Regions from separate parts of the Homo sapiens genome. Here all the other regions are reported to be linked to region 2. The links are microRNA targets in miRTarBase. Many come from high-throughput screens and were not tested one by one. Region 2 holds a microRNA gene; each other region holds the end of a gene's coding sequence.
The links. Region 2 holds the annotated microRNA hsa-miR-8063 (UCAAAAUCAGGAGUCGGGGCUU, at 2,171-2,192, opposite strand). A microRNA usually pairs through its seed, bases 2 to 8, with sites in the 3' UTR of a target mRNA and lowers its output. Matches are read on the target gene's strand: a 7mer-m8 pairs with bases 2 to 8, a 7mer-A1 pairs with bases 2 to 7 and ends in A, and an 8mer does both.

Region 1 (4,088 bases), not on the chromosome of region 2:
TACTAGACACTATGCTAATTGCCTTACAAGCATTCTATATTTACAACCATATATGATAGGTATTACTGTCTCCATTTTATGTGATAAACAAATTCAAAGTGGTTAAGTAACCATTCCCTAAGCCAGCTAGGAAATAGAGGCAGGATTAAAATCTAAATGTATGAAACTCCACAGCTCCTTGGCATTCCTAGTCCTTAACCCGCTATGCTATGCTACGTCTTGGTAACTAAAAGTACATATTAAATACTCTCAAAATATGTCTCATAGCAGCCAGCTTGGTATGTACACTAGACACAGTATTAATGCTGTTGATGTGAGGAAAATTTTATAATTTTCCTTCCATCCATATACTAACCAGGCCCAACAGTGCTTAGCTTCTGAGATCAGAGATCAGGTGCATGTGCATTAAGGGTCATATGGCCATAGATAGTTCTCTAATCTTTCCATTCCTCAGTTTCTTAAGGGAATTTCTGAACCCTCAAAATTCCTTATTTCCTAAGTAGACAGATTACCTGTCATTTTTCAAAGATTAAGGCTTAAGATCAAACCAGAACTGTTTTGGAAATTCTAAATCACTGTCTATATAAATGGCAAGATAACTTTTAAGATATTTATACCAAGCCCAGTACAGTAGCACACCACACCTGTAATCCCAGCACTTTGGGAGGCTGAAGTGGGTGGATCACATGAGGTCAGGAGTTCGAGACCACTCTGGCCAACATGGTGAAACCCTGTCTCTACTAAAAATATAAAAATTAGCCAGGCATGGTGGCACTTGCCTGTTATCCCAGCTACAAGGGAGGCTAAGGCAGGAGAATCGCTTTAACCTGGGAGGCAGTGGTTGTTGCAGTGAGCCAAGATTGCACCACTGCACTCTAGCCTGGGCGACAGAGTGAGACTGTCTCAAAAAAAAAAAAAAAAAAAAAGATACTTGTCCCAGCCATGAAAATGTTTGCTGCCCCTTACTTTCGCAAACTTTTAGTATTTTATTATTTTTCAATGGCTGTAAAATATGACTTATTAAATGTAGTATAATATAAAGAAAAGAGATATCTAGCAAAGATAGCATTAAAGCAAAAATCCTATTTGCCTGCTGATAAAGTTAGAGGTGTTAACTTGGAGGGTGAATCCAATAAATTAGAACTTTTGTGCTATATTTGGAGACTTTTGTTTTCCTACCAAAGTATCAGGGCTATGTCTTACTTATCTTTGTATTACACAGCCTGCATGACACGTTTTGCACATAGTAATTGCACAGTAAATGTGTAATAACCTACATGGAATAGCCAGTGTTGTGTTGGATAGCGGGAGCATTTGGCTAGCTTATGGTTATAGTCCCTTACCCAACAGTCTGCTTTTCTTCTGTTGTACTTTTAGTACCTAACAAGTTTCCCTGGCTTTAGGATTTTTTCCATGTAAAATTTCTATCATGTGAAGAAAAAATAACTTGGCCTACACTTCTAATACCTAGCACATACCTCTTTCTGCCTGCTATGAAATTATAATACTTGATGGAGGGAGGCAGCATTAAGTGTTTACATCCTGAAGTATTTCAGCCATAACATCCAGTGTTTTCCAGGTTCTAGGTTTCATAAAATGTATCTCTGTTCTCTAGAACAAATCCATTACCTTGAACTCATTCGTAGTGGGAAAAAGCTGAGTCTAATTTGTATGACTTTTTCAACAGATGCTGATCAACTAAAGGAAAAAATAAAAGATCTAGAGACACAGCTCAAAATGTCAGATCTAGAAAAGCAGCATTTGAAGGTAATATTTAATTATATTTTAGTATCGTTTTGTGAAAACAGCTGTTGAAAACTATTTTCATTACCATCTTTAACTACGTATCCTAAAAAATTCAGTAATAACATCTTATATTTGACCTTTATATTGCAAAGTTAATTATGTTCATCTGACTATTCCTAACATATTAGAGTTAACAAAAAATTCAGACTCAACATAGGATTAAGTAGTAAATTTATTTTTTAATTGTAACAAATATATGCCATTAGTATGTTCTTAAGTTTTGGGTCACATTGGCAACAGTGTCTTTATTTTTTTTTTGAAATTCTTTTCAGGAATCCTAAGGTTATAGTTCCCTTAAAAAAATATTTGCTGTTTTACCTCTTTTAAGACTGTAAACAGGACAAAAAGGCATGGATATGAGAATTAGCTAGTGATCACTGGCTATTCTAAATAGTCACTAAGGCTTGAATTGTCTCTTCACCAGATGCCTGTCAGAAGTCCCAAAGGTTTCCCTGATCATATTAATAACTTTATAAAAAATTGATCATTATTCATTAAATATTAGATATTAGTAAGGAAAATATAAATGAAGTCTAAACCAAAACTCTTAACCAGACTAACTTCAATGTTATGAATCACAAAATCTTTTTGATTGATTGCTCTATTGACAAGCTCTTATATGCTTTTAGAGAAAGATTAAGTCCCATTATAAGAGATGATAAATTTTAGTCAAAGACTAGAACACAACTTACAGAATACATAACTGGACTTGACAGTTAACAACTTAGTTATTTACACTGTACAATGGAACAAAGAAAAATCTTAATTCTTCTGCCTTTATTGCTGTATTTGACCATTCAGGAATACTTTGGCTTTCATATTTACAATTAAATCTCCTTGTTCAAACGTAAAATATGTATATTTCCTATATGCAACTTTTAAAGATAATGTTTCCATTAGGAGGAAATAAAGAAGCTGAAAAAAGAACTGGAAAATTTTGATCCTTCATTTTTTGAAGAAATTGAAGATCTTAAGTATAATTACAAGGAAGAAGTGAAGAAGAATATTCTCTTAGAAGAGAAGGTAAAAAAACTTTCAGAACAATTGGGAGTTGAATTAACTAGCCCTGTTGCTGCTTCTGAAGAGTTTGAAGATGAAGAAGAAAGTCCTGTTAATTTCCCCATTTACTAAAGGTCACCTATAAACTTTGTTTCATTTAACTATTTATTAACTTTATAAGTTAAATATACTTGGAAATAAGCAGTTCTCCGAACTGTAGTATTTCCTTCTCACTACCTTGTACCTTTATACTTAGATTGGAATTCTTAATAAATAAAATTATATGAAATTTTCAACTTATTATAAAAGTATATACTTGAAGACTTGTTACAGCCATCAAATAGGCAGTGAGCTCTGGTGAATTTCTCTACATTCATAATGCTTTAAGTTTTTTAAAGAATATGAGGGTAAATTCAGCAATTTTAAGATTTAAAATTGGAGTTTATATATACTTATTTATACATGTGTTAAGATTCTCAAATCCTATGATATATACACAGATGTAGACATACACACATATAGGTTATGAGGTTGAGCCGTATGTTTTGTTAAATATCTAGCAAAATTAAATTGAGCTTAAACTATTTAATTTTGAAAATTAGTGACATTAAATTGTTGTCTTTAAATTACCACTCAGTTATAGTGAAGAGAATCCAGCCTTTGTCCAAGCTTAGGAGCTTACTATTACTTATGTTTTTATGGCTAGAGATTAAAATTAATTTGCTGGTTTTTAATAAAATTTTGAATAGGTACTTGAAACTGGAAAATTCATTTCTTCACAAATGGTAGAAAACATATTGATGTTTCATAATGAACAGAAACCTTGAGATATTTTTAAATATGGTAGAATATTCAAGATTAGAATATAATGATAAACTAATTTTATTTGCATTTTATACATCAAATATTATATCTTTGAGTCTAACAAATTTCTGATTATCTATTTTTAAAAAATGATTAAACAAACACTTAATATCAAAGGCAGAGTCACATTTGTTCAGGTTCATGTTGATAATAACTGGTCTTGAATTCATGTAAGTATCTGGAATTGGCCAGCATAAGCCAAGATGATGGCGATGGACCTGGAAAGAGAAAAAAGGTATTAGCTTTAGCATACAGATACTATCTTCATTCACTTAGAAATATTTGAGTGCCCACTGTCTGCCAGGTACTGGGTAAGACTCCACTTTATCTTACTGTTTTTTTTTTTATAGCTGGTCTTCTCCTGACATATTACATATTTGTTTATTGTCTATCTTCCCCATTAGAATGTGAGCTTCATG
Region 2 (4,088 bases):
TTTATTGCCCCATCATAAATTCATAAAGGGATGTCCGCTGTAACCAGTTGGCAAGTTCACTGCATAAACATCAACACCAATTTAATGACTGTGTACACATCGTAAACTAGAGAATCTTTATACAAAGAAATCAGATAAATCAAACATGAGCTGAGGCTAAGGAGAAAGCAATTAAAGCTTTAGGTTAAGGTGGCTGCGGGAGGGCACTGTGTCACGTTAGAGCAGAGAACAGAAAATGTGTTAATACAACTGCAGTATGTATAATTAAATTAATTAGTAATATAAAATGTGTTTAAAGCAACATCTCATCAACAGATTAATAGATAAGAAACTTTTAGAAGTTTTAATTTTCCCATTGTATGTGTTCAAAGAATAGGAAAAAAAAAACCCTCTGAAATTTCCTAAGGGGTTGATAAAAATAAAATTGCTGTGGTGGTGGGCTTGGGGGGGTGGGGGATGTAAAGTCGATTTACCTGCCTCTGGCTAGTAACAGGAAAAAGGAATAATCAGAACATAAAAACCTGTTTGGCCATATTTCATCTCCTTATAGCATATTGAAATGTTTTGGCGCCAACTCATCTCATTCTAATACCTCGAAGGCTGGTATAAAACACCTTTAAGGCACATTGTTTTCTGAGCAATTATTTAGAGTCAATGTCTAAGAAATGCTTAAGCATCACCTGGTAATACAAATTTTAAAGTTATATTTAAAACACCCAAGGAGGTTTTTACTGAACAAAAATTAGATTGCCTATATGCCAAAGCTCCTCATCAACTGAAAGCTGGAAGCTAAATTTGGCCGTAAGAAACTGGCTTGGAACTTCAGAAGTTCTGGGGCCAAATTCAGCCCTGTATTACTTGTATGCCTTGTTACATTAAAAAAAAAAAAAAAAAAAAAAAAAAAGGGCTGTTCCAGTGATAGCAAGCATTCCATTTATTCATCTCAAAAGCAATAAGATCCTAGAATGGAGCCTTCATAACACAAAATGCTTTTAAGTTTTCCCTGAGGGGAACACAATATACACAATTCATGTAAAAAGAAGAAAAATGAAAGCTAAGTATTTCAGTTAAGGGTCAGAAATCAATATTTCCTTAACAGCCTAAGCAACATGCATTACTCTTAATACAAATACTCAGAGACTTTACATTCTTCATAAAGGGAGATTTTCACATAATTGGGGTTGAAAGTGGCAGAATATGCTCTCCCAACTTAGTTTCTATTGCTGCAAAATGGAAAAGAATATATTTGGACAGCATTTCACTGATCCCTGTCATCCTCGGTTAAAACTTCTTACCTAAATGTCCAAGTGTGGAGCAACACGTAACTAAATTTTAATACATCTCAATGGAATATGATAAAGACATTGCAATATCAATAGGAGAACAATATAGTAACAGAAACTATAAATGTAAAACTAACTTTATTGAAGAAATGAGAATATGGTATTTTTCAGGTGGCAAAATTTTTTCATGATGTTCCGTTATGCTGTCAATAAAAAGTTTTAAAAAAGAAAAACTTCTGCCTGAGTAGCACAAAAGTAAGTTATGATAAGATGTAGTAGGAAGAGAATGAACCTTAAGAGATAAAGTGTAACTAAAAGGACTGAGTTTAAAAAAACAAACATCCTGACTAGCTGGTGAGCATTAACATTAGTCCTCCTTCTGTTCTCCAGAATGGAGCCAGAGTGATCCCTGCAAAGGACCCGTGTGATTTTGTCACTCTACTGCTTGGCATGCTTCAGTGGCTTTCCATTATTTTCAGGCTGAAGACGAAAATGTTTATCATGGCCTTCAAGGTACCCAATGATCTGGTCTCGAACTCCTGACCTCAAGTGATCCGCCCACCTTGGCCTCCCAAAGTGCTGGGATTACAGGTGTGAGCCACCGCACCTGGCCAATAGAAACTATTTTTAAAAATTCATTTATGTGTCTTATGCCTTTTAAAATATTTTTTGTCCTGTTTTCTCCTTCTTTCAATAGTGTACTCTGATATGATTCAAAGGAACCCCAGGGACCAACACCTCTCCTGGTTTCCAAAAGACCTTAATTTTACTACAGTTTAAGATTCAAGTGTATAACAAATTCTTTTTTTCTAAAGCAGAATTTAGAGGAATCAGTTGTGACAATTCATAGAGATACACTTTTTTTTTTCTGTGCATGAAAAGCAGTAAAGCCCCGACTCCTGATTTTGAAACCAATTTCTCATATCAAAAGTCTACACATCTGTTGAAACTGCCTCTATTGCTTAGGACTAAGAAACAATTTCTTTGTATGGGCTGACTGAACAACTATCTTTTAAATCTCTTAAGTATGTACTAGAATTAGTCTGTGTTTGCATAGACATCTTTTACTTGTCGATATACACCAACACAGCTGTGGAAGAAAGACTAAGCTTTAGTTTCCACTTGGCCATCGGAAACTAAAGTCACTTAATCTCTCTAAGCCTCAGTTTGCTCATCTATAAAATAGGACAATAATACCTGCTTTACAGGTATTTGGGAGGATTAAGTAAGAAAATGATAGAATCATGCTGGATAAGCTGTAGAGCATTTACAAATAGAAAACATAATCAAGATTCCACTTAGCTTGAGGATTCAGACACAGAGTTTTGCAGAGTGGCCAAGTCACAAAAGGGCTCTTCAAAGGCTTCTACTCTCTGGTGTGACACTGGCACAACACCTATTGCCCCGGTAGAAAGACCTTTATTTCAAAATGTTTCACTAGGAAACAGTTAAAAGCTGTTCTTTGGTTAAGCGCACTGACTCTTATTTGGATGCTGCTGCCTCTTTAAAGCTTAGATCTGCATTCTTCTAATGGAGAAAAGGAGAGTAGGCATAAAACTATAGAATAAAGAGCCTGGAACTTAGTAGGTGTTATAAAACATTGGTTTAAAAAAGAAAACATGAGTGAATAAACCCAAAGCGTTCATCTATTTTAAATTATCCGAATTGCCATGGTAAAATACAAGTTGTAATTAGAAGAATCAGGTTTGGTGCTTTGCACATAATAAGAGTTGAAAAAATAAAGAGGATGACTGGAGTAATGACGTTCAAATAAGAAGTTAAAATATTAACACTAAAAAACTGTAACTGAACTTTTAATTAAAAAAACCCTAAAAACTAATGACATTGTTTTCTTCTTATTTAAAAAAAAAAGCCAGTATTCCACTTGAAATGTTCGTGAGATATACAAATCCACTGATTTCCAAAATTAACCTTATGATATTTAAAGATGATATATGCCTTGTTGTCTATGGATACCTGCCAGAACTTGTACTTACGTATTTCTAAACACTTAATTCAGCAATATTTCACATCAATTTCCCCCTCGATTTTTCTAGCTATCATGCCTTGAGAGCAGTTCCTATCTTTGACCTTGAAAACTCTCAATAAAAATCAGTCACATTTCCATTTCCTAGAAATTCGAAGAGTGTCACCAAACTTTCAGGTACAGATAAATTCTTGTCTGGTTATCCTGTATTGTGAAATGCCAGCTCTTCATTATTTCAGAACATTCTATATCAGGGCTGATATTGAATCTATAATTTTGTGTTTTAAAACACCAAACATCATAGTGAAATTCAAAAAATGAATTTCAGAATTCTGAGTGTTCATATTTCAAGCTCCTACATAGTTCGTTTATTTTTTCTTTCCATCGAGCCACAGAAGTTGACCCCAGTAAGACCATTAAGTCCACTGATTTCATTAGTAATATTTTTGTTCACACTCCAAAAATCAAATTGTTCATATTCCAAAAATTAAATAATTTGGTTTATCAACATTTCAATGATTTTCCATATTCTCCCAAATTATTTGAGAGCTATGACATACCACGTTAACATTTACATATGAAAAACAGAAGCAAAAAAGCAATTTTCCTAATAGAAGGCATTTAATCACGTTGAAATAAGATCTTACCTTACAGGGCTGCCCCTCAGCCCACCTTATACTTTCTGGATGTTTAAGTCTGTGGCTTTGACTTACATGGGTTAACGTCCTCTGTAAGCTAAATCCAGTATCAGATGGATATGGCATGAGGAACCAGCCAGCATGAGGAACCAGGTCCTACTGTTAAATCTGCGTGCCATG
Region 3 (4,088 bases), not on the chromosome of region 2:
TCTGTTTGTCCCTTCGTTCCGCAGAGCTACCCTCCGCTTCTACCGTTCACGGGGATTCCGGAACCCTCAGAGCCCCTGGCAGGGGCAGGGGGCCTGGGGTGGGGCGGCCGCGGCTACGAGGATTACCGGCGCTCCGGGCCACCCGCGCCCCTCGCCCTGTCCACCTGCGTCGTGCGCTTCGCCAAGACCGGCGCGTTGAGGGGCGCTGCCCTGGGTCCCCCAGCGGCACTACCTGCCCCTTTGACCGAGGCTGCGCCCCCAGCGCCCCCCGCTCGCCCACCCCCCGGCCCGGGCCCATCCTCTGCGCCTGCCAAGGCCTCCCCGGAAGCGGAGGAGGCAGCGCGCTGCGTGCATTGCCGCGCGCTCTTCCGTCGCAGAGCAGACGGGCGTGGCGGCCGCTGCGCAGAGGCCCCGGACCCGGGTCGCCTCCTGGTGCGCCGTCTAAGCTGCCTGTGGTGCGCCGAGAGCTTGCTCTACCACTGCCTGTCGGACGCCGAGGGCGACTTCTCGGACCCGTGCGCCTGCGAGCCGGGCCACCCGCGCCCCGCCGCGCGCTGGGCCGCGCTGGCCGCGCTCTCCCTGGCAGTGCCCTGCCTCTGCTGCTACGCGCCCCTGCGCGCGTGCCACTGGGTCGCAGCGCGATGCGGCTGCGCCGGCTGCGGGGGTCGCCACGAGGAGGCTGCGCGGTGAGGACGGCCTGGTGGGTCCCCTAGCCGGCCCGAGGACCCAAAATTGAGGGTCCAGGACCCCGGACTCCGTTCGGACCTAAAACCCAAACCTAGGCACATCCGGAACTTGGAGCTTGAGTTTGGATTGAGAGATCTCAGACCTGGAACCTGGAACCCAAACCTAGGACTGAGAGACCCCAGCCCCAGCTTCATTGGGGTGTCTGTCTAAGAAGTCCCAGGCGTCCTGAGTTCTGGCGTTCCCCCACCCCCACACCCCACGAGGAGGCTCCAGGCGTCCCCATACTTTGCATCTCAGAAAGGCCAGGGAGCACATAGATCCCGAAAAGGGCAGGTCCCTGTTGAAATGAACAACCTAGAACCCGGTCACGCCTGGCACCATGTCCCTCAGATTACAGCCCCACAATTAGTCAGGACTTGCCCATAACTGGCTCTGCCTTTATTCAACTCCCAGATCAGATCTTGAGACCATAGGACCTGGAGTCACCCACAAACAGTTCCTGAATATTCACCTAAGACCTGGTGCCCCCACATCTGAGACATTCTCATAGTCCCAGGACCCCTGAGACAGCAGGACCCCTGAGAAAGTTTCAAACAGAGTTTGAAACTCTGTTATGCTCTGGAATCTCCAGATGCTGCCCCTCAAATCTACCCACGACTTAGTGCCCACAGACCTGGCCTCCAGTCCGGGAACACTGAAGTCTAAGATGTCCAGGGAACTCCCAGACACCCTGGGACCCCAGACTCTTAAGATGCACTGAGTGCTCGGATATACTGAAACACGAGCTGTTCTCTTACCAAAATGACTTGGGAGACCCATCCCAGAGCCCCCAAGATCCAGATATCAGACACCAAGATGCTCTGGAAGCCAGGGATCAAAGACCTCCATAGGTCCACCCACCCCCAAGCCAGGGTTCTCAGGAGCTTTGGATATCATTTATAGGACTCAGAGGTGCCTGGGGTCCTCAGATGTGCGACTGAAGGCCACCAACACCTCAGGACCCGAGATACTGGTCTCGAGTTCTCAAATAGCCCTCTCTTGCAGTCCCTCCTGGACCTGGATTTTGAGACCCCAAATGTCCTGGAATCTTCAGCTTCTTTCTACCCACAGATTCCCAACCCCTTAAGGGCTGGGAGTCCAGCTCCCAGAAGAGGGGATGCTCATGGTGACCCAGACCTCTGATGCCCTTGGCCCTCAGCCCTTGAGTGACCCTAAGGTACTTTAGGAGCACTGGATCCAATACCCCAAAGGTGCCACTGACCCCCAAATGCAAGGCTCAAGACCCTACAACATTGGGATTGTTCCTGATCCAAGACCTTCATCCCTCCATACCAGAGGCGTTCAGATTCGAGGTGCCCCAAGACCCCAGCACCCTCAGACCCCAGATTTCTTTGGATTCAAACCTCTCTAGTCTGATGAACCCCAAGTTGCCTCTACACCTGATTCCCCCATCCCCACTTGTCGGACCTCAGAGACCTGCTGCCCCTTGAATCCTGTCATCCATAGGCCCCTAAAACCCCAAGGTTCCAGCCTCTGGAATTCTGGTCCCAAGGATCCCAGCCCAAGCCCCCAGCAATCCTCAGAATTACCCCTTTATCTTAGGGTGGGATCCCTACCATTTGGAACTCATTGTAGGACCACCCAGGGTGGGGCACAGTGGCTCATGCCTTGTAATCCCAGCACTTTGGGAGGCCAAGGGAGGAGGATCGCTTAAGGCCAGGAGTTTGAGACCAGCCTGGGCAATGTAGTGAGACCGTCTCTAAAAAAAAAAAAAAAGGACCAAGTAGGAGCTCCCTCACTGTCACGTCTAGGACCCAGCATTGTCACAGATGATTATGCAGGGTCTTCATTAAGTGAAGGCACACAGCCCAGGGTTTCGAGGAGCTGGAAGTCACACCAGTCTGCTGGCCACACTGTGCCCTCAGAAGAAGTGTGTGCAATGGAAACTTTCAGGCTAGTTATGGCTCTGCTGTCCCACAGCCCCCAGTCTTGCAGACCTTCCTTCAAGCACAACCTTAATTCCTAGTCCAGGTTCAAGTCCCACCTTTTATGTTCTCCCCCTCCATTAACCCCTTCTCTTCCTATTTATTTATTTATTTATTTATTTATTTTGAGACAGAGTCTCGCTGTATCACCCAGGCTGGAGTGCAGTGGCACAATCTCGGCTCACCACAACCTCCCCCTCCCGGGTTCAAGCCATTCGTCTGCCTCAGCCTCCCGAGTAGCTGGGATAACAGGCATGTGCCACCACACCCAGCTAATTTTTTGTATTTTGAGTAGAGACAGGGTTTCACCATGTTGGCCAGGATGGTCTCAAACTCCTGACCTCATGATCCACCTGCCTCAGCCTCCCAAAGTGCTGGGATTACAGGCATGAGCCACTGCACCTGGCTCTCTTCCACTTTAGAGTGAGAAGTTGCTTCAGGAAGTTTGAAAGCCTGTTTCATGGCCCACTGAGTCTCTTCTGTGCAAAGGGGGGTGCCACAGGCTTTTTTCCCCCAAGTGAAATGGGGCTTCCAGTGGATCGAAGATCTGGTGTCCTGTATGGGGGCCTCAAGGTCTTGGAGCAAGACAGTCTCAATGTTGTATGGGCTTGGGACCTGCATCTGGCCCCAAGCATCTGGAACTGTGCACTTAACCTTTCTTCATTACCCAGACTTGGATGGCCTTGTTGGGGTTCAAGGGATAGGTCCTCTGTCTCTTCCTTTAAATTATTAACTATTTATTACATCCGGAACCTGTGAGATTCAGCACTCCCAACCAGACCCTGGGATGGGTGAGAGAAAAGCGGGGGTGTCTCTCCCCTCCCCACTCTGCCCAGCTCTCATCACTGTCAGACCCACCAGAGCTGAGGGCGGAGGGATTGGGGGCTGGGGCAGCCTGGGTCCCCATGCCCCTCTCTGTGCCTCGGTCTCCCCCCTTCCATGGTGGGCGGGGGGGAAGCTCCATTCTTAACCTACCTCGTTTTGGGGAGGGGTGGGACGGGGGACCAGAGTGCTGTACGGTGCTGTGGGATCTGCAGATGAAGCGGTGGGGGCTAAGGAAAGGTCCCCTGGCCGCCACTTCCCAGCAGCGCCTCTCCCAGGTCCCCCAGTCCTGCTCCCTGCTGAGACCCACCTCTGATCCATGATTCCCCTTCATTGCCCCCAAATCAGGGGTACATGGAGGGCCGCCCTGGGAGCCAGGCAGACCTCAGACCCTGGAGCCCCCAGGCCCAATTTCCCAGCCGCTTGCCCCTCAGATCGGATGCTTGGCCCCCAGATTTGGGGGAGGCACCCCAACATATATCTTCCTGATCTTGTTTCTAAGCCAGTCTGTGACCTCAATATTGTTAGTGTCAGTGCAGGCTGAAGTGGTGGGGGAGGATGGGGGCCAAAGACCCAGCCTTGTCATCGGGGGAG
Region 4 (4,088 bases), not on the chromosome of region 2:
GGGATTTCAGGTAGGGGAACCGGTGAGTGCAAACGCCCTAGAGTGTGCTCAGGGAACGGCCAGAAGGGAGCCCTATATAGGAGAAGCACACCGGTCCTTTTGCTGTTGTGGTGATTATTACTGTTCTATGTCACATGTTCAAAAGATGCAATTGGTGGTGCAGATGTCCCAGCAGGGCCTGGAAAAGTGGTTCTTCCAGGTCTCTATGAGTCATGTAAAGCTCTAGTAAGAAGCTTTACTTGGGAAGAAAAAGTCTCTTATTAAGCCAATGTTCTTGCTTTCTTGCAAGATTCAAGTTAGTAATTCCCAGATTCACATTCTCAGAGTGGAAGCTGTCACCATCCTTAGCTTGTGGTAATCAAAGATGGGGCCAGGCTGCGGGAGGGCCCCTAGCAGCCTTGTCTGCTGGTGTTATTCTTTTCACACTTTTCCAGTCTGGTGGTAGGCTCGGAAATTGCTGAGAAGCACTGGGAAGAGGGTACATACAGTTCCAATCAGGGAACAGGCTGGAGAGGCAGTGGGAAGACGTTCCCTTTTTCAGCTTCACAGAACTACAGAGCTACACTTTCATAACATACCTTTCTTTTTTTTTCTTTTGCCCCCTTTCCCCAAGACAGGTTGAAGTCAAGGACCAACAAAGCAAGCAGGCTTTAGACCTCCACCATCCAAAGCTCATGCCCGGCAGTGGACTCGCCCTCGCTCCATCTACCTGCCCCCGCTGCCTCTTTCAGGAAGGAGCCCCTTAGGAGGACAGGCCTGCAGCATCCTGGTCTCGGGAGGCTTCTGTCATTGCTCACACACAGTTCAGATTTCCACCTCTTTATAGACAAGAAGTGAATTTGCCTGGGGCAGAACACCCACCCAAAGAGTCCCCACTTAACAATACCCCCCCCCCACGGCAAGAATGCCCAAATCCGAATGACCCCAGTTTTCCTAATGAGTAAAATGATCCCAGATGTGCCCCAGAGCATGACGCCTGCAGCTCCGGTTTCATGCAGGAAATTGGTTTTGGAGAGTTTTGGCAAGTTGGAAAGCCACTTACTGGCTTTTGACATGACTTCTCTTGGAGAATAAGTGGACTCCAAGCTAACTCTTTGCAAATGTAAACACATGTCCATCTTGTAATAAATGCAAAATGCCCGTGCAGCAGAAGCATGCGACTTTCATATCCTTGCCTAGAATAGGCTGCATGGTGTATGTCAGTGAGGGCCACGAGGCGTCGGCTTTAGACACAGATCATAGCTCTACAGGAGTTTATGAATTTGAAGCTTATGGGATTTTGGCAGAGAAATTTTCAGCTGTGCTTGATACCCACCAAAAGAATGTATCTCGAAAGAATGAAGGAAGAAGAAAAAAGGATCCTTGATGTTTGTGACAAGAAAATGAGAAAGTTAGTATCTGCAATACAGAGCTTGTTCCTGTTCAGTGACTGACCCTCTGTATTCTGTATAGACACCAGGCCGATACACAGTGGAGTTCCCAGGCCTTGTTTGCAGGAAGCCGACTGTAAAGACAGCCCCAGCTCAAGGCTATTAGGTTGAATATTTGCTTTCATGAGTAAATGTGGATCTTTGGGGAATGGCTTCAAAATAAGTCACGAACACAAATTCTTTGTAAATTATGTAAATTCCTGTTTATATAAATTGGCAACAACTTATACCGTCTGACAGTTCAAAATCTCTTTCAGCTGCGCTCTTCCCACCGAGCCGAGCTTACTGTGAGTGTGGAGATGTTATCCCACCATGTAAAGTCGCCTGCGCAGGGGAGGGCTGCCCATCTCCCCAACCCAGTCACAGAGAGATAGGAAACGGCATTTGAGTGGGTGTCCAGGGCCCCGTAGAGAGACATTTAAGATGGTGTATGACAGAGCATTGGCCTTGACCAAATGTTAAATCCTCTGTGTGTATTTCATAAGTTATTACAGGTATAAAAGTGATGACCTATCATGAGGAAATGAAAGTGGCTGATTTGCTGGTAGGATTTTGTACAGTTTAGAGAAGCGATTATTTATTGTGAAACTGTTCTCCACTCCAACTCCTTTATGTGGATCTGTTCAAAGTAGTCACTGTATATACGTATAGAGAGGTAGATAGGTAGGTAGATTTTAAATTGCATTCTGAATACAAACTCATACTCCTTAGAGCTTGAATTACATTTTTAAAATGCATATGTGCTGTTTGGCACCGTGGCAAGATGGTATCAGAGAGAAACCCATCAATTGCTCAAATACTCAGAAAGTACTGTCAAAAGCCTAATAAAAAACCTAAAGTTTGCTCTGATTTGTGGGTTTTTTTCCTCACTGTCTTTATGTGCGGGGTTGCGCATCAACTTTTCATGGACCTCTGGAGAGGACGGGAAGAAGTTGTGGTTTGGGAAGTGGAATCCATCTAAAGTCAGTTATGGAGCTAGATGAGGGGCTGCCTGAATATTAAGGAAGAAGTGGGGTTTGGGGACCGTTCCAAGAAGATAAAACATTCACAGCAGTCAGGAAGAGAGAAACCTGGGGAGAGAGCTGGTTCTTCCCCTAGGCCATTGTGCCTTCCTAGCAATAGGGAGGCTTCCTTGTGGCCCTGCCAAAGATGCCTGTGCAGCCCAGGATTCTAGGGAGAGGGCACTGCTGGGGGGCTCAGGATTCTATGGAGAGCACTGCTGGAGGGCTCAGGATTCCAGGGAGAGGGCACTGCTGGGGGGCTCAGGATTCTACGGAGAGCACTGCTGGAGGGCTGAGGATTCTAGGGAGAGCACTGCTGGGGGGCTCAGGATTCTAGAGAGAGGGCACTGCTGGGGGGCTCAGGATTCTAGGGAGAGCACTGCTGGGGGGCTCAGGATTCTAGGGAGAGGGCACTGATGGGTGGCTCAGGATTTTACGGGGAGAGCACTGCTGGGGCGCTCAGGATTCTAGGGGGAGAGCACTGCTGGGGGGCTCAGGAGTCTATGGAAAGCACTGCTGGGGGGCTCAGGATTCTAGGGAGAGCACTGCTGGGGGGCTGAGGATTCTAGGGAGAGGGCACTGCTGGGGGGCTCAGGATTCTAGAGAGAGGGCACTGCTGGGGGCTCAGGATTCTAGGGAGAGCACTGCTGGGGGGCTCAGGATTCTAGGGAGAGGGCACTGATGGGTGGCTCAGGATTTTAGGGGGAGAGCACTGCTGGGGCGCTCAGGATTCTAGGGGGAGAGCACTGCTGGGGGCTCAGGATTCTATGGAAAGCACTGCTGGGGGGCTCAGGATTCTAGGGAGAGGGCACTGCGAGGGAGCTCGATTCTAGGAGAGGGCACTGCTGGGGGGGCTAAGGATTCTAGAGACAGGGCACTGCTGGGGGCTCAGGATTCTAGTGAGAGGGCACTGCTGGGGGCTCAGGATTCTAGGGAAAGGGTGTGGCTGCTGAGTTCTTGATAACCAGAAGACAGCAATGATCACACCTGCAAGTCTTTAAAGCTTATAAGACGTCTTGGGGGATTGGGGATGTTCGGAAAGAGTGGGGTTTCCTTCATTTTCTTTCTTACTTCCTTTCCTACCTTCTCCACCTGCCTTTTGAATAAAGAATCAGAGACCGTGGGAGGCAGGGAATTGGACAAAGACAGGCCCAGCCAAAGAGCAAAGAGAAATCCAAGAAGAGGAGTAGGTTTGAGTTTGATGGCTACCTGATCTGAGAAAACCCAGGAGCCTCTTGTTTTAATTAAAGTCATCTTAGAGAGTTTTGACTTTGATGGACTGAGAGCGTTGGGTTTTTTCTGCAGGATGTGGGGCAGCACACAGCAGGAGCTGCAGCGTTCACTCGAGGCACTAACAGGTCCTGGAGTCCAGGAGCTGCCCAGGTGCCACGGAGGCCCCAGGCAGAGGAGGACAGCCAAGGACTTCCAGGAGTCATGGGCAGTCCGAGGCCCAGACGTGGCAGGCTTTTCTGGCATCTGGGTGGAGGAATGAAGGAGCAGTCTATGGATTTATGAGCAGGATTGGCTATGGAAACTGTAGGGCCCCTGGCTTAGAAGGAGTAAGAACTTCAGATCGTGCATTAAACCACGGGCGTCCAGCCCTTCTGAGCCCGGGATCCTGTTCACCTGTGAAGGTTGCCTCAGCTGAAGCCCAGCA
Region 5 (4,088 bases), not on the chromosome of region 2:
CAGCCTGCCCTTTACAATTATCCCATCGTTCCCCAGGTGCTCCACCGTTCCTGCTGTGGAGAAGGAGGCGAAGTCAGAGAGCTCTTCCAAGCTTTCCCCAGGAAGAGCTCTCTGGCTTTGCCTTAAAGCTCCCCAGAGGTTTTGGAGGCTGACTTTATGCTCCAACCAATTTGCCATACCCCAGCCAGGGAGAAGCTATTGCCACATTCTTCTTACGCCACAGCCCTGGTATGCTTCTAGGAGCCCCAACCAGGGAGAAGCTATTGCCACACTTCTTACACCACAGCCCTGGGCTGCTTCTAGGCGCGGGCCAGACAGCCGTCACCCACCTCTAACCCCACTGAGAGAGCAATAATCACAGAAACCTTGGACATAGCTCCTGCCCTGTGCTAGATACTTTGTATACGTTAATACCCCCAGGAGAGATGTAGTATTCGCGCTCTACAAATGAGGAAGCCAAGGCTCAGAGAATTAAGTTGGTTTTTCCAATGTCACATAGCTAGTAAGTGGCAGAACTGGGACTCCAACCCAGAGCACTCACCTGGAGAGATGAGTGGGCATTTCTCTAATCAGCACCCACCCATGAGCCCATCCCTCTGCCTTCTGCTTGCCAGGGCAACCTCATTCCCCATAGCCCTGATCTACCTGGTTCTCATCGCTGTGGGGCAGAACTACATGAAGGAACGCAAGGGCTTCAACCTGCAAGGGCCTCTCATCCTCTGGTCCTTCTGCCTTGCAATCTTCAGGTAAGACCCCATCCCACTCCCTGCCTCTTCTCTAGATCTTAGACCACCATTCTATCCCTTGAAGCTTTCCCGATTGCATCAACCTCCATCCTGTCCCCAAGTTGCCTTGTAACACTCTCCCCATCTCATTCTCGGCTTTAGTTCCCCTCCCAGCCTTCACCCTCTTCTGTTATATTATCCTGTTTTCCTTCTCTTTTAGACCCCTACCTGGTGGTCTCTGCTTTGTCCCTCTTGCCTTCGTAGAGTCTGTACTCGCAACTAATTTCTCCAGCCTCTAATAGTGTCACCTCCTAACACCCTCTCTCAAGACCCTCCAATAACTTCCCCATATTTTCTCCCCCAAACTCCTTCAGTCTTCCCCTATCCCTCTACACATCTCCTCCCAGGCTCCTAACCCCTCCCAAGAACCCCATTCCTTAACTCAACTTTCAGTCCCATCCCCCTGCATTCCCTGATCTTTCTCCAGCCCTCGTCTCCTCTAGACTACTGATTGGATCTACCAGATTGGCTTCAGGATCTCAGGAGCTTTGACCCACCCCCTGTGGACAGGTGGGGAGGTGGTAGAGCTTGGAACACAGTAACCTGGCCAAGCCGGGGGAAGGGTGGATTATTGGTGCCTGGGGATGACACTTACACCATCTTCCTTTGTCCCATTTCAGTATCCTGGGGGCAGTGAGGATGTGGGGCATTATGGGGACTGTGCTACTTACCGGGGGCCTAAAGCAAACCGTGTGCTTCATCAACTTCATCGATAATTCCACAGTCAAATTCTGGTCCTGGGTCTTTCTTCTCAGCAAGGTCATAGAACTCGGTGAGTGGCAAAGCTTTGTCTTTCTGGTGCCTTGTGAACTGCATCCTTCCTCAGGGCCCTCCCTTCACCCATCCCATGGAGGGTCTCTTTCCTACCCTTGGGTCCCAATAATACCTCTCACCCAAGCCCCTCTACAGATTCTCTGCCACAAAGACCCCCTTCCCTCCCCTGAGAATTTCTCCCGTGTCCCTACATCCAGTGCAGAGGGTGGTCCCAGCACTGGGTGGTATGCCAACTATGACTCTCCATCTCCCAGGAGACACAGCCTTCATCATCCTGCGTAAGCGGCCACTCATCTTTATTCACTGGTACCACCACAGCACAGTGCTCGTGTACACAAGCTTTGGATACAAGAACAAAGTGCCTGCAGGAGGCTGGTTCGTCACCATGAACTTTGGTGTTCATGCCATCATGTACACCTACTACACTCTGAAGGCTGCCAACGTGAAGCCCCCCAAGATGCTGCCCATGCTCATCACCAGCCTGCAGATCTTGCAGATGTTTGTAGGAGCCATCGTCAGCATCCTCACGTACATCTGGAGGCAGGATCAGGGATGCCACACCACGATGGAACACTTATTCTGGTCCTTCATCTTGTATATGACCTATTTCATCCTCTTTGCCCACTTCTTCTGCCAGACCTACATCAGGCCCAAGGTCAAAGCCAAGACCAAGAGCCAGTGAAGGTTTGGAGAGAACAATGAAGCTCCAGGCTCTCTCTTCTCCAGGGCACCAAGAGGCTGGGCTTAGTTTTGGGAGAATGATTAGGTTGCCTTACCTGCATGGTTTCCCCAGAGGATGTGTGCCCCAAGGTGGCTGGAATTTTTGACAGACAAGAAGGGTGACCTTGGGATGGGGGTGTGGTCTGTTACTTTAATGTTTCTGTTTTTAATGTGAAGGCCAAGCAGGCCCTGGGATGGGAGTGGGGCGGAGGAGGGTCCTAAGAGCTGATTATTTAATTTCTATCCAGAAATCTTTCTTCTTCTTGCTCTGTTTTTTTAAATTAAAGATTTCAACAAAATTTTGAGAGTTGGGGGATTTGGGGGGAAAGAGGGCTGCTGTGATGGCAGGAGGCTGCTACCAAGGGGATGATCTGCAGGTGGGACGCCTGAGGGTGTGTGGAAGGGTGAGAGGCACACACACAGACACTGAAAGAATCCTAGGCCTGGTAGGCACTTAACAAATGTCTGTTACAGACCAGAATTTTATTGCTGTTAGAGACCCAAGCCCCTCATAGGAACAGTGAGAAACAGGTGCAGAAAGGCGGAGTAACTTTATCTAAAGTCATAGGCTCCCTGAATAGCAGAGCTGACACCTACAAGGAAGCGTTGGAGACCAGATCTACCAGCTAGCCTCCCTGAGACCACGAGGTGGCGCCGCAGCACCGGCTGTGGCCGATGCCAGCCAGGTAGCCGGTTTCCCACGTCCCCCGCACGCACGCACCTCTTTGCTGCAGGAATCCCGGGCTGCCCCGACCTGGAGTAGGGGGGGTGGTGAGTGGGACTGAGTCCCTAGAAGCCTGGACCCTCACTTCGTTCCTGTACATCCAGCTCGCCTGTAGACAGTGGGGGAGGATGAAGGGAAGAGGACTCAAGCGCAACTTTGAATCATCACGCCTTCGACAGTCCGCGCACGTTTATTTCATTTATCTTTGAAAACGAGGGAGGGGAAGCCTGGAGAAGGCGGGATGGGCCAAGGGTGAGTTGGCCCCCGGGGAGCTGGTCCCTGTTCCTGGCTTTAGTCCCAGGGGCGCGGTCTGTGTGTAGGGCCTAGTCCACCCCTCAGGGCTGGGAGGGGAAGGCCCTCTCCTGAGCCGGTGCCCCCCAGCTGCCCAAACACCCCTTTCAGACCCTGGGGCGGGAGCAAGCCAGTCAAAATGACCCCAGTCCGCGGAGGCTGTGAATCGTTGCCCCCGCCCTCGGGGATGATCTACGGGCGGGGCCGCTCATACGGGCCTTTCCACGGCGTACTGGCACGGACTAAGGTTGGCTGCCGGGGGCGGCCCGTGCACAGCGGGGTAGCTGAAGGAGGCGTGCTGTTTGGCTTTGAGCCGCAGGCTGGCCAGGCTCGAGTTACACGGGTCCCGATAGACGTAGGGGGAAGAGGCGGCAGCCGCGGCGGCGGCGGCGGCCGAGGCATAAGGGCAGGACACGGCCCCGGAGGACACGGCGGCCGGAGCCAGCCCGGGGGGGCCCCCGCCCAGGCCCTGCAGGGCCCCAGGCCCTGGCACGGTGCCCGGGGCAGCCGCGGCGGAGGGCACCATGGAGGCGGCGATGGAGCTGGGTGGCGAGAAGACGGGCTGCGAAGCCAGAGGCCCCACGTTGACCGAGTTGAAGGCGAATGGAAAGGTCTTGGCGGCGAGCGGCGGGGCAAGAGCCTTGGGCGGCCAGTTGCCGTACGAGTAGCCGGGGTACACCTCCTCGTAGGGCGGCACCAGCCCCCCGAGCGGCGCCGCGAAGCTGCCTTTGCATAGCTCGGCCTGCTGGCTGCGCTCGCGCTTCCGCCATTTGGCGCGCCGGTTCTTGAACCAC
Region 6 (4,088 bases), not on the chromosome of region 2:
CTCAAATAAGTAGTAACCTTTCATATCTTAATTCCTCCCTAAATTGTTTGCATCCTAAGAAAATGTCAAAACAATAGCAAGTACACAGATTTAGTATTTCACCAGTGACTTCCAGAGAGCTAGAAACAGGATTTATGAAGAATCCACGTTATGATTTTCATTATTCAATAGCTAATGTTACATGGATAAATACATTATTACTGTTATATTATTGCTTACTACTGACTGGATTTCTTCATCATACTCCTGAGCATCATGAACTGAAAAAACTATAGAAATGATAGCAATATCATCTGATTAACAATGGGCAGATCAGTCCTGGTGCACAATGCTTTATACATGAGGCCAAAAATGACTTTGGATTAAGAATATTCTAGTAAAACTTCTGCATCTAAAAGGAGCAGGAAGAATGCATACATTTTAATAATCTTCAAAAGACCAGTTTAGCTAATATCAATATATATTTAGAGGTTGTTGTAATTTCTATTTTTTCTGTATCCGTTCAACTGTCCTGTGCAAGGCAAAAATGAACCAAGTATGTGGTCAAGAGTAGTGGGCATTCACATTCAGACAATTTGTGTATTCTTATAAATGTGTTTAATTACAACTGCTTCAAAAGAATCCCAGCTTTTCAAAAGTTTATTTTAAGTTTGGAGACTAGACAAGGTCATACTGGTTTTACATCCTACGTGATATAAGTATATATACAAAGAAAAAAACAACATTGGAATATTACACAGCTTGAAGGTTTGCAAAGGTTATTTGTGTCTTAGTTATTTCTGCACTTAATGACACATCAGACGCATTGAGTATATTTCATAAGTTGTTGACTAGCAAAGATACAATCATTAGTAACCCAAGTCTTCAAAATTCACACCAAACTTTATGAAGTCATTCAGAAAGAGAAAGTCAATCCTAAAATTAAAATTGGCAACTATGATAAATACCTTCAAAAGGATGTAGATATAATGGAGATGTTTAAAAGTTTAGTTTCATTAATTGTAAAATTAGCATGTTATATTTACTCAATATAGTGAAGACTAGGTGATTCTTACATGTATTCTACTTATGGTACTGTACTGGTTTTAGTGTGAATTTACATAGAATAAATTTACTTCACTTTCATGTCATCGACATGAATGACACAAAAGCTACTTCATAATACTACTTTACAATAGTTTTCAACATTTCCATATGGTGCGACCCCTTTGCTCTCATCAATTTTGGGTGTCATGAGAACAATAGGTATCCCGTTGGACATGATGTATTGCGAAGAGCATATAAAGCAGAGGGAAAATGAAAAAGCAAGAGAAACTCATTTCAATGCTTTTTCTAAAAGGTAACAAATATAATTTTAATCAACTTCCTTGGAAAATATTTTTAAAACAGGTATCAATAGAAAAAATTACAAAACATCATATGAAGCTATAAATAATTTTGAAAAACTATATCATCATAAAGCGTAAGTAATAATCTTAAAAATACACTCTTAAGAAGGTATGTAATTTGCAAAGGAAAATGGCTAGATATCTGATGGGACAGTAAACCTTGAAAGAAACTGGCTAAAGAGTAAGTGTGTGTATATTTCTGAACCTAAGTAATTATTTGTCACGACTTTAAAATTTAGCCAGTTACAAATATTTTAAAATCCTAACTTTAAAGTTATCTAAAAAAGGCAATATGGAGGAAATAGTAATTTTGTTTTTGAAAGATGTTGAAAACTGATCACCATTTCAGAGGCTTCAAATTCATAATTTCATAATAAGAACAAGAAGTAGAAAGCATATGGGCAAGGAACAAATATGTGGCCAGCCAGTCCCCTTAGACGAACTAATTTTGTTCTTATTAAAAATGCCAATACAATTGACTTTCTCTTTAAATTCTTCACTATGATTGAAGACCACTCCATATATACATCATTAAGAAATGCTGTTAACACATGGACAGACAAGACAGTAACAGTCTAGTGGCTTTTGTTATGCAGCACAAATATTAAAGGAAAAAAATAGCAGTGTTGCGTAGGATCTTAACATTTCATACACATACCATCCTTTCTTTTCCAATACACTTAATTTAAAACTCCAATAATTCTGTCTAAGCCTTATAAAATAAATACTTGTAAAGCTTATAAATTAGATGTTGAAGACTTTTATGGAGGCAGTGTGAGCTTTAATTTGAGAGACATGTCAATGAAACCTCCAGTATCAATAACAAATTGTTATGATAATTGCTTATTTTTTCAGGACCTTTGAAGCAAAATAAATAGAAATCAGTTTTCATCTTGAAAATGGTTTACTACTTTGTCATTAGTAAACACTTTGCTTCTCACAAATAACTCCACCTGTGCCTTCCTGGGAAACTACCACCAGTTTCAAATCTCAATAAGATGTTAGTTTCACAGGAAATGTGGAGCTGAACAAAGAAATGATGAGTATGCTTGGCCAAACTATGCAGCACTATATTAATATTTCTTTGCTAAATTTTTTATAAAATAAACAAATAAGCCGATTTTTTAAAGTAAATATAAGGATATGTAATTACCATCTAAATGAAGATTTAAATTTAAAGAGACATATATATTTTTTGTTCTTTTGTGCAAACTGAGAGTATGGGATTCTTTATGAAGCAATTATTTGGAAATTAAATAGTTATGGCTTCCTTCAAAAATAAAACTGCAGATTTAATTAACGAATATTAAATACAGATCAATCTACTGATAGGCAGTCATGTTCTACATATATGAGTAAACATGACACTTCTTTTAGTCAACTAATAGGAAATTCAATTAGAAAAAAATTGAATTATTCAGGTAATATACAATATTAAGAATGTAGAATAGAACTAAAAGAAAAAGAAGTCACATAATCTCTTATTAGAAATAATGAAAGTAAAATGAGAATTATAATATCAGTACTGCATGTTACATATTCTTCTTTAAAATTTTGTAATAAACATTGACAGTGTTTGGTAGGCACAGGGAAACAGGATAACGTAGAGTCATTACAGAAGAAAAAAACTTATTGCTAACATTGCAGTATTCCTTTTATCAGAATTAGGTGAGTATTGATTGTAAAAGCTCTATCAACTCTTGCTCTTATTTGATGACTTTGAGACTTTTTTACTCTTGCTATAAAAAGAAGGCTACTTTCTTTCCCTAATATATTTCTACCAATGCGAATAATTCAGGAAACAATGAGAGAAAAGTAATTCACACTTAATGTGTTGTTACTTAAGAGATTTGACGGATAAAATAAAATCAAATTAAATCATTGAAAAGGCAGGCTTAGACCCCCTTAAAAACACCGTTAGTTGCCTACCATAATTTGAGCACTTTTTCATGAAAAAAAAAAAAAAACCATTCAGTTTCCTACAGATTTTGCACAGTTCATTCCATGGAGATACTTTTAGGGAAATAGGGAAGAGGGTTGTGAAATGTAGCCTCCCCTCATTCCTCCTCTGTGCAGCCCAGCAGCTCTGACCGCAATGTGATCCTCCCGTACCAGGACCAAGGAAGGATTCTTATGTGTCGTGCATAGATGGGAGGGTCGATGACATTTTTTCTGTGAGTGTCATTGTCAAAATTTCCCTGGAAAACCTAATAAAGAAGAGCAGAAAAATGTCAGTCACACAGCCTTCTTTCTTTGAAATTATTTTTATGTTCCTGTTTGGAACATTTTCCCCAAACATGATATTTGATAACTATTCATTTTCTTTTCTTCAAAATATATTGCAGCTTCTTTTTAATAATAATTATTTTAAATTAAATGGTCAATTAATGTTTAAAGAGTTAAACCTTTATTGTTTAATGCAGACATTCATAGGTCTATCATTTTCCTCTACTTGTTTCTCTCAATTAAAAAAAATACAACAGGTATTCATTTTTTGCTTATGTCACAGGCTGACGTTAGTCATGTAGCTTGCTGAAGATGCTCTCTTCCACGGGGTGACTCAGAGATCCAAGCTGCTTGCAAAGTACAGCTATCATCTGGAGCAGGCGGCCTCCACATTCACAAGGGGCAAGGGGAGGGAGAGTTAGCAGACTGTGCAGAGTGTTTAAGAGAACAAGCATGGAAGCAGCTTATATCACT

Region 1: the mRNA of RLIG1 is a reported target of hsa-miR-8063. Seed matches in the 3' UTR shown: 7mer-m8 at 2,385-2,391.
Region 3: miRTarBase lists SPRED3 as a target of hsa-miR-8063. Seed matches in the 3' UTR shown: 8mer at 1,747-1,754, 7mer-A1 at 2,795-2,801 and 7mer-A1 at 2,957-2,963.
Region 4: miRTarBase lists EDN3 as a target of hsa-miR-8063. Seed matches in the 3' UTR shown: 7mer-m8 at 1,276-1,282 and 7mer-m8 at 1,979-1,985.
Region 5: miRTarBase lists PITX3 as a target of hsa-miR-8063. Seed matches in the 3' UTR shown: 7mer-A1 at 3,429-3,435.
Region 6: miRTarBase lists EDIL3 as a target of hsa-miR-8063. Seed matches in the 3' UTR shown: 7mer-A1 at 865-871.

What each region holds. Positions count from the first base shown.
Region 1 is chr12:88,048,033-88,052,120 of GRCh38, reverse strand. RLIG1 (RNA 5'-phosphate and 3'-OH ligase 1) reads right to left here. Exons shown (of 7, transcript NM_001009894.3): 7 at 1,961-3,887. The coding sequence ends at 3,699. It overlaps CEP290 (centrosomal protein 290), which reads left to right. Exons shown (of 54, transcript NM_025114.4): 53 at 1,688-1,767; 54 at 2,707-3,105. The coding sequence ends at 2,937. It also overlaps the pseudogene RNA5SP364. Among named protein-coding and RNA genes, the nearest start is that of RLIG1, 15 kb to the right of the region's middle.
Region 2 is chr15:36,970,661-36,974,748 of GRCh38, forward strand. It overlaps MIR8063 (microRNA 8063), which reads right to left and starts at 2,241; the gene lies at 2,161-2,241. The region is part of intron 8 of MEIS2 (Meis homeobox 2); the gene reads right to left.
Region 3 is chr19:38,395,456-38,399,543 of GRCh38, forward strand. It overlaps SPRED3 (sprouty related EVH1 domain containing 3), which reads left to right. Exons shown (of 6, transcript NM_001394336.1): 6 at 25-4,088. The coding sequence ends at 690. Among named protein-coding and RNA genes, the nearest start is that of FAM98C, 5.6 kb to the right of the region's middle.
Region 4 is chr20:59,323,714-59,327,801 of GRCh38, forward strand. It overlaps EDN3 (endothelin 3), which reads left to right. Exons shown (of 5, transcript NM_207034.3): 5 at 618-2,279. The coding sequence ends at 746. Among named protein-coding and RNA genes, the nearest start is that of EDN3, 25 kb to the left of the region's middle.
Region 5 is chr10:102,227,012-102,231,099 of GRCh38, forward strand. It overlaps PITX3 (paired like homeodomain 3), which reads right to left. Exons shown (of 4, transcript NM_005029.4): 4 at 3,178-4,088. The coding sequence ends at 3,503. It overlaps ELOVL3 (ELOVL fatty acid elongase 3), which reads left to right. Exons shown (of 4, transcript NM_152310.3): 2 at 615-746; 3 at 1,406-1,557; 4 at 1,814-2,578. The coding sequence ends at 2,241. It also overlaps a transcript of GBF1 not described here. Among named protein-coding and RNA genes, the nearest start is that of ELOVL3, 2.8 kb to the left of the region's middle. RefSeq lists silencers at 2,847-3,015, 3,372-3,631, 3,642-3,741.
Region 6 is chr5:83,939,974-83,944,061 of GRCh38, forward strand. It overlaps EDIL3 (EGF like repeats and discoidin domains 3), which reads right to left. Exons shown (of 11, transcript NM_005711.5): 11 at 581-3,595. The coding sequence ends at 3,446. Among named protein-coding and RNA genes, the nearest start is that of HAPLN1, 220 kb to the left of the region's middle.